Linked DNA regions of Homo sapiens: region 2 is linked to region 1. A link means that fine-mapping ties the variant in region 1 to the expression of a gene that starts in the linked region. Tissue or cell type: neutrophils. Region 1 holds a variant in brackets; the other region holds the start of a gene. All regions are shown on one strand. Distances are from middle to middle.

Region 1 (2,915 bases):
TCTGTGGTGTGAACATACCAGTGCCCTGTTTCACCTCCTGATATTTCTGTTCTTCATCACATCCTGCCTGGTCTCTGACCAATCATCTATTTATGCCTTGATTGACTTAATTCATTTATTCAACAAACGTCGGTTGAACACCTGCTTAAGGTACATACTGTTCCGAAAGCTGGACAGACAAATGAGGACCCATTCCGTGCTCTTTTGGGGCTTATATCTCCATGGGAAAATCGAAGGCTTTGCCTGTCTGACCCTCGAGGAGCCTGTTCGGGTCTGACATGGAGTCTTGCTATGAACATGCTATGAACATGCTCAATTCAGGTCTCTCCTGGTCTGTGCTTTCAGAGTCCCCCTGTTCTACTGGTCCCAACTCCTCATTATGCCCAAGGCTGTGGAACAGAGTATCAGGATCAGCAACAAAGGGAACAGAAAAGTTCCCTTCTCTTTCTGGCTTTGTTAGAACAATCAACGTATTTTACAGCTAAATTTGCAAAAAATTTTCTAGCAGCTTGGCAAGGCTTTCCTCATAGAGGAGTGGTAATGAAGCCCTTTTATCCAGCTCCATGGCTCATACAGTGTCACAGCTGTTGGTGAAATTGATAGGTGCCCATGGATTAATTCAAGCCCAGTAGAGAAGAAAGCAGCCATCACCTCCAAGCAAGCCTTTGGGATTCCTCATTGTGGCTTTCTGCTCAGCTCTTCTCCAGAGGGTGCTGGAGTGGGGGAACTCATGTCACTCATCAAAGTTCCACTTCGATGAGGAATGCCTCATTCTAGCACCAAAGTGATGTCTGCCCACTTATCACCAGGTTTCAAGCTGATTTATGGGCAACCCAACTTCTTTCATTTGGTTTACACTTTTTTTTCCTTGAAAGTCAGCCTTTCCTGTTCGATGTGCGTTTTCTTCCCCAGTAATTAACACAAGGTCATGATTGCCGTTTTAGGGACTCTTTCTGGTGTGGGTTTGCTTGTGTTCCCCAATGGTAGTTCTGATTACATTGTTTCACCTGATTATTAATGATTTTTTTCCTGTTAGGCAGCTGTGCATTTCATCCTGGCCTTCGGCTTGAATTGTTACAAATTATGAATTGATAGACTTCAAATCAAATTTTATTGTGCCTTATGTAAATACTTGGGAAATAATTTTTTATTTAAATAAATCAGCACCAAATAGTTTTCTTTTGAACACATAGACTTCTTTTGCATTTCTTTTTTCTGAATTGTTTTTCTGTTGCTGTGAATCTTGAAGATCTAAGTGATGAATGATAGTTACCTTTTTTTAACCAAGTTGTTCATTGCAAGTATTTTTTTGCTATCGTTGTTTTAAGTGAATTCAAATTTGACCTAAGGAGACAGTGGTTATCATATGCGTTATTGGGTTTTGTCTTAAACTTTGTGAACATTATGGAAAAAAAAAA[T/AT]GCTTAAACCTGCAGATGTTGGGGGTGGGTGTGTGTGCGTGCATTTGTATACATAAGTGTGTACATGAGTTTAATTGAGCTGTTAAGAACAAGAAGCCTTCAAGGTGGGAACAAAAGGGAGATCTTGCCAAAGCCAGAAAGATGATAAATGTACAAGAGCACATTGTTAGGGAAGTTCCACAGAGGGCGCATCTGGAGAGAGTCTCTGAATACTGAGTAGCTTACTTTTAGTAACAGTGCTTGTCTTGGTAGCTAACGTTCATATAAAAAAGGAGACTGAAATGTAAAATATATACTTGATTTTCAGAAAATCTGTTTTTCTGACAGTTCAGTTTTTTTCTTATTAGAATTGGAACTCAGCCTAGCCTTGTTTTGAACAAGACTAACAGGATTGTGAGGTGGAGGAAATATTAATAATGAAGCCTAGGAAAGGGTTATTACCATCTCTCTCAGCTCTCATTGTTCTACCTCTCATAAGAATATCCAAGATAAAGGTCTTCAAGGCATGCCTTGAATGATCTGCATCCGTCTTGCTAAGCCTTGGGCTCCTACTCAAGCTTCAGGCTGTTTTCCACTCCTGGCTGGGGCCACACTCCTGTCCCCACCCACTCAACCTGCTGCTCAGAATCCCTCTCTCCCCTGCAACTCCTCCTCCTAGGACTTCTCTTTCCCTAACACTGGGTCACTGAATCTTGCTCTCAGTGAATTCATGTTCCTTGCCCCATATCCAACCTCCACTCCATCCCCATTTCCCCTCTACTATTCTACCTTTCCTTCTATTATCAAAGGAATATCGCTTTCTAACATACTAATTCATTTACTTTTTATGGCGGTGGTTTACTGTCATCTCTCTCCGCCTCCGCAGGTCCCCATTCACTGGAAGTGGAGCTTGTTGGAGGGATCTCTGTCTAGGGCTCCAGCTATAGAGAGCAGTGCTTTGTACCTTGCAGGCACTGATAAATATTTTTTGAAAGCATAAATTCCTTGCACTACACTTGTTTTATCTTCTTACTAAATGTGTTCACCCAGCTTTATAGCATCTTCACAGCATGGCCCAGCGTGCTGCATGGTAATTGGTACCCAAAAAAGCCTGGAGACTGATCACGTAACCCAGGAGTTTTGTTTTCTCACGGATCCTGTCTTTGTGTTAGGCAGGGCACTGGTACTCACTGGAGAGAAGAGGGATACAAAAAGAGCATTTAGGAGCGAGAGGAGCTCTTATATCTTCAATGACTGATTTCATTACTACTTTTAAGCAGTTAAAGACATTTAGCAATTTTACTTCCAGAGGATTTCTGGAATCACTAATTGATTGTCCACACTTCTTTGCAAAAGAGAGATAACACTGTCTACAAAGATTTGGTAGAAACATAAGACTCTTAAATTCTTATCTGCATTGGAAAAAGTCCCTAGCCAGTAGCTTTATACTTTCAAGGAAACCAGGAAGTCCATGGAATATTCCATTAGATAACTGAAAGGACTATTTTTCAGCCTATT
Region 2 (2,915 bases), 66 kb before region 1:
TATCTGAGATAACTGGGACTGAGCAACATTGTCTAGACAGGCAAAGTGTTAGCAATAATAAGTATAATAATAATTGTAATGTAATAATGGAATGAGGATGTTAAAGTACTGAGATCAGGATAAAAGTTACAATTGTCCAAATTTTAAATTTCCTATCATTTCCACTGAAATCACTGACTGTACTTATAACATTATCAGGAATTTATGCAATTTGTAGGTTTTGAAATAAATTACCATTCAGAATTCAACCGTGAAAAACAGTGTAACTCTACTTGAAAAACACTTTGAAAAACTCAAGTTTCCACCAAATCTAGAAGCACATGGGTCGTAAAACATAGTTCGAAAAGTTACGAGAGATGATGACTACAAGGAACTTTTTATAAAAATCTTTTATAAGCATTACTCTGTGGTCAAATTTATTTTCACATGGATATTAAAACAAGTTATTGCTACAAATGGGTTTCTGTTCTGATCCTTTTTTTGTTTGCCTCACATATCCTTTCTCTTCCACCACATTCTGCTTCACTCTCCCCGTCTCTCATCACAGACAAGAAAAATGCCACCTCCCATAGGACCCACTCCAAACCCTGTTTCCTGAATGATCAATGCCTTCCCCCATCGCAATCAAAAAAGCACTTTCTATTCTGTCTTCATGACACACTGGTTTTGACACTTGCATAGCTGTTAGTAATTCTGCAATGTGCTTGGGCTATTTGTGAGCACATGTATTTTTCCTTTATAGATTATAAACATCTAAAGAACAAGGTTAACCCAGGAGTCAAGTAAATAGTTAAATATTATTTTGACAATGGCTGTAATAGTGGACATTTGAAAGGAATACACCTCAGTATTTTGAAATTGAAATAATTTTCTAGATCCTGGCATTTCTGGACTTTCAACAGCCCACCCTTTTTAAAAATTGTGAAGACACTTTTACTATAAAGGTCTGCCCAGACCCTCTCTGATACACCTGTGTAAATGCCACGTGCATGTGAGCATGCGACAGTACGTGTGTGCACGCCTGTGCAGTGGTAATCAACCATGGTGCTAAGGTTTGAAAACAGAAAATACATCAATCGACCTCCAAGCTTCTTTCATCCCACTTCATAACATCTCAATCTCTTGAGTGCTGAGGCTTATTTTGTTTAAGATGATTTGGACTCTTCTGAGTGCAACGCAATCTCCTTCCAGCACAGCGGACCGAGGAGAGGTGAGGGGAGAGTTTTGAGGGTGGGCATATTGATCCTACGCTTGCTGAATTAAAAATGAGCCAACTGAGGACAATTTCCAGGTTGCAACACAGACGGAGCCGGAGTCTGGGTTGAGGTTAGAGGAGCCGTTAGGGCGCAGGGATGCAACAGGATTTGGGAGAAAGGGGAGAGAAAGCAAGGCCACTTCCAGGGGGCTTTCATTTTTTTTTTATCCTGGCAGCTTCCCGAGCCAGATTTCAAAAGCGATTTCAAACGTGAAGCCAACTGAAGCACTGCCTTACACTAATTGGAAGGGGAAGGGAGTGACTCATATTACACCAGCTCGCTCTTCCCTCTCGGCAACTGCTAACTTGTAGCTTTAAAAGGAAGTGACATGGGTGGGGAGAGACGTCAGCTGAGGACCACTTTTTTTTTTTTTTTCTTCCTGAAGGGTCCACCCCATGGGTGGAGTCTCGCTTTTTCTTTCCAGTGTTGGCTGACTTACAGCTCTTATAAACTAGTGGCAATTTCTGAACCCAGCCGGCTCCATCTCAGCTTCTGGTTTCTAAGTCCATGTGCCAAAGGCTGCCAGGAAGGAGGTATGTGGTCCTGGTGCCGTTCGCAGGCACCTTCCCCGCTGGGTGTGGCTGATGTTTGCATTCCTCTTCCCAGCATATTTTTCTCTCCTGGGCTGGATTTCCTTAGGACCTCTGGAAGGGGTAGGCTCCGGGGGCGGGGGGGGAGTGCAAGGCGGGCGGGGGAAAGGTGCAGGGGGCGCCTGGAGGGAGGCGAAGAGAGGCTCTGCTGGTACAAAAGGACCCTCGCTTTGTGCTGGGCCGGGTGAGCGTCCCTTTCTGGGCTGTGATTTCAAGCTGCTGTTCCTGGCTTCATTTACCCACCCACCCAGCCCCCTCCCGGGGCTAAAGCATTTTCTCTGCTATAGACGAAGCTGGGCGGGGGGTGGTGGTGGGGGGAATGTTCCTATTACATATTGCTCTCTTTTGTGTCATGCAACATGTTCTTCCGTCGCTGACGTTTCTATGGCAACCACAAAAATACTACACAATATGCAGCCCCGATATACATTGATTTATTTGTATTTTGTGTCTAGTTTGCAGCTTTCTGCTCTGCTTCTTGCTTTGGTTTGCTAAAATCCAGCATGGCTTGTGGCTACCCCTCCTCACTTTCATTTTGGTTTTTCCCTATCACAGGAGGGGTGGGGGAGGGGAGTTGTCAAGGAAACAGGCATTGGTAATTACCTCTCTATTTACCTAATTTTCGGCCTATGAATTTCTCCATATCGAGGAATTAAAAAAAGAATGCTTTGATGTTTATGTAAGTCTTCAGTGTCTGGTCTTTTTTTAGAAAACCTAAACACTTCTTAAGATAAGATATTGATCCTGTGGTCAAGCTAAGGGGGAATTAATTCCTTACAGGAGGTGAGATCATTGAAATAAAGTTTTAGAGAGCATTGGAGAATTCGCACTGATAAATGTGATATTGCCTGCCCAGGTTTGCCTAAAAGCTTAAATATTTAAAAGATGGGTCTTTGCTCTCATCTGCACTTATTTAGCTCCAAATCTTAAGTTCAACAAGTATGAGTAACAAATTAACTGCCGGGCAGGATTCTCCGTTTTTCGTTTTCGTGCATTGTTCTTAGATGGATTAGCCACGCTATTCACTCTCTTCAAGGTGAGGGTTGCTAGACTTTTTCAAAACTGTGGA

Evidence for each region. PIP is the estimated chance that this variant, and not a neighbour inherited with it, causes the effect.
Region 2: it holds the start of AGPAT4, and the variant in region 1 is fine-mapped to the expression of AGPAT4 in neutrophils (BLUEPRINT, PIP 0.95).

What each region holds. Positions count from the first base shown.
Region 1 is chr6:161,206,983-161,209,897 of GRCh38, reverse strand. The region is part of intron 2 of AGPAT4 (1-acylglycerol-3-phosphate O-acyltransferase 4); the gene reads left to right. Among named protein-coding and RNA genes, the nearest start is that of AGPAT4-IT1, 46 kb to the right of the region's middle. The variant T/AT (reference allele first, on the strand shown) is at 1,419.
Region 2 is chr6:161,272,812-161,275,726 of GRCh38, reverse strand. AGPAT4 (1-acylglycerol-3-phosphate O-acyltransferase 4) reads left to right here and starts at 1,666. Exons shown (of 9, transcript NM_020133.3): 1 at 1,666-1,789.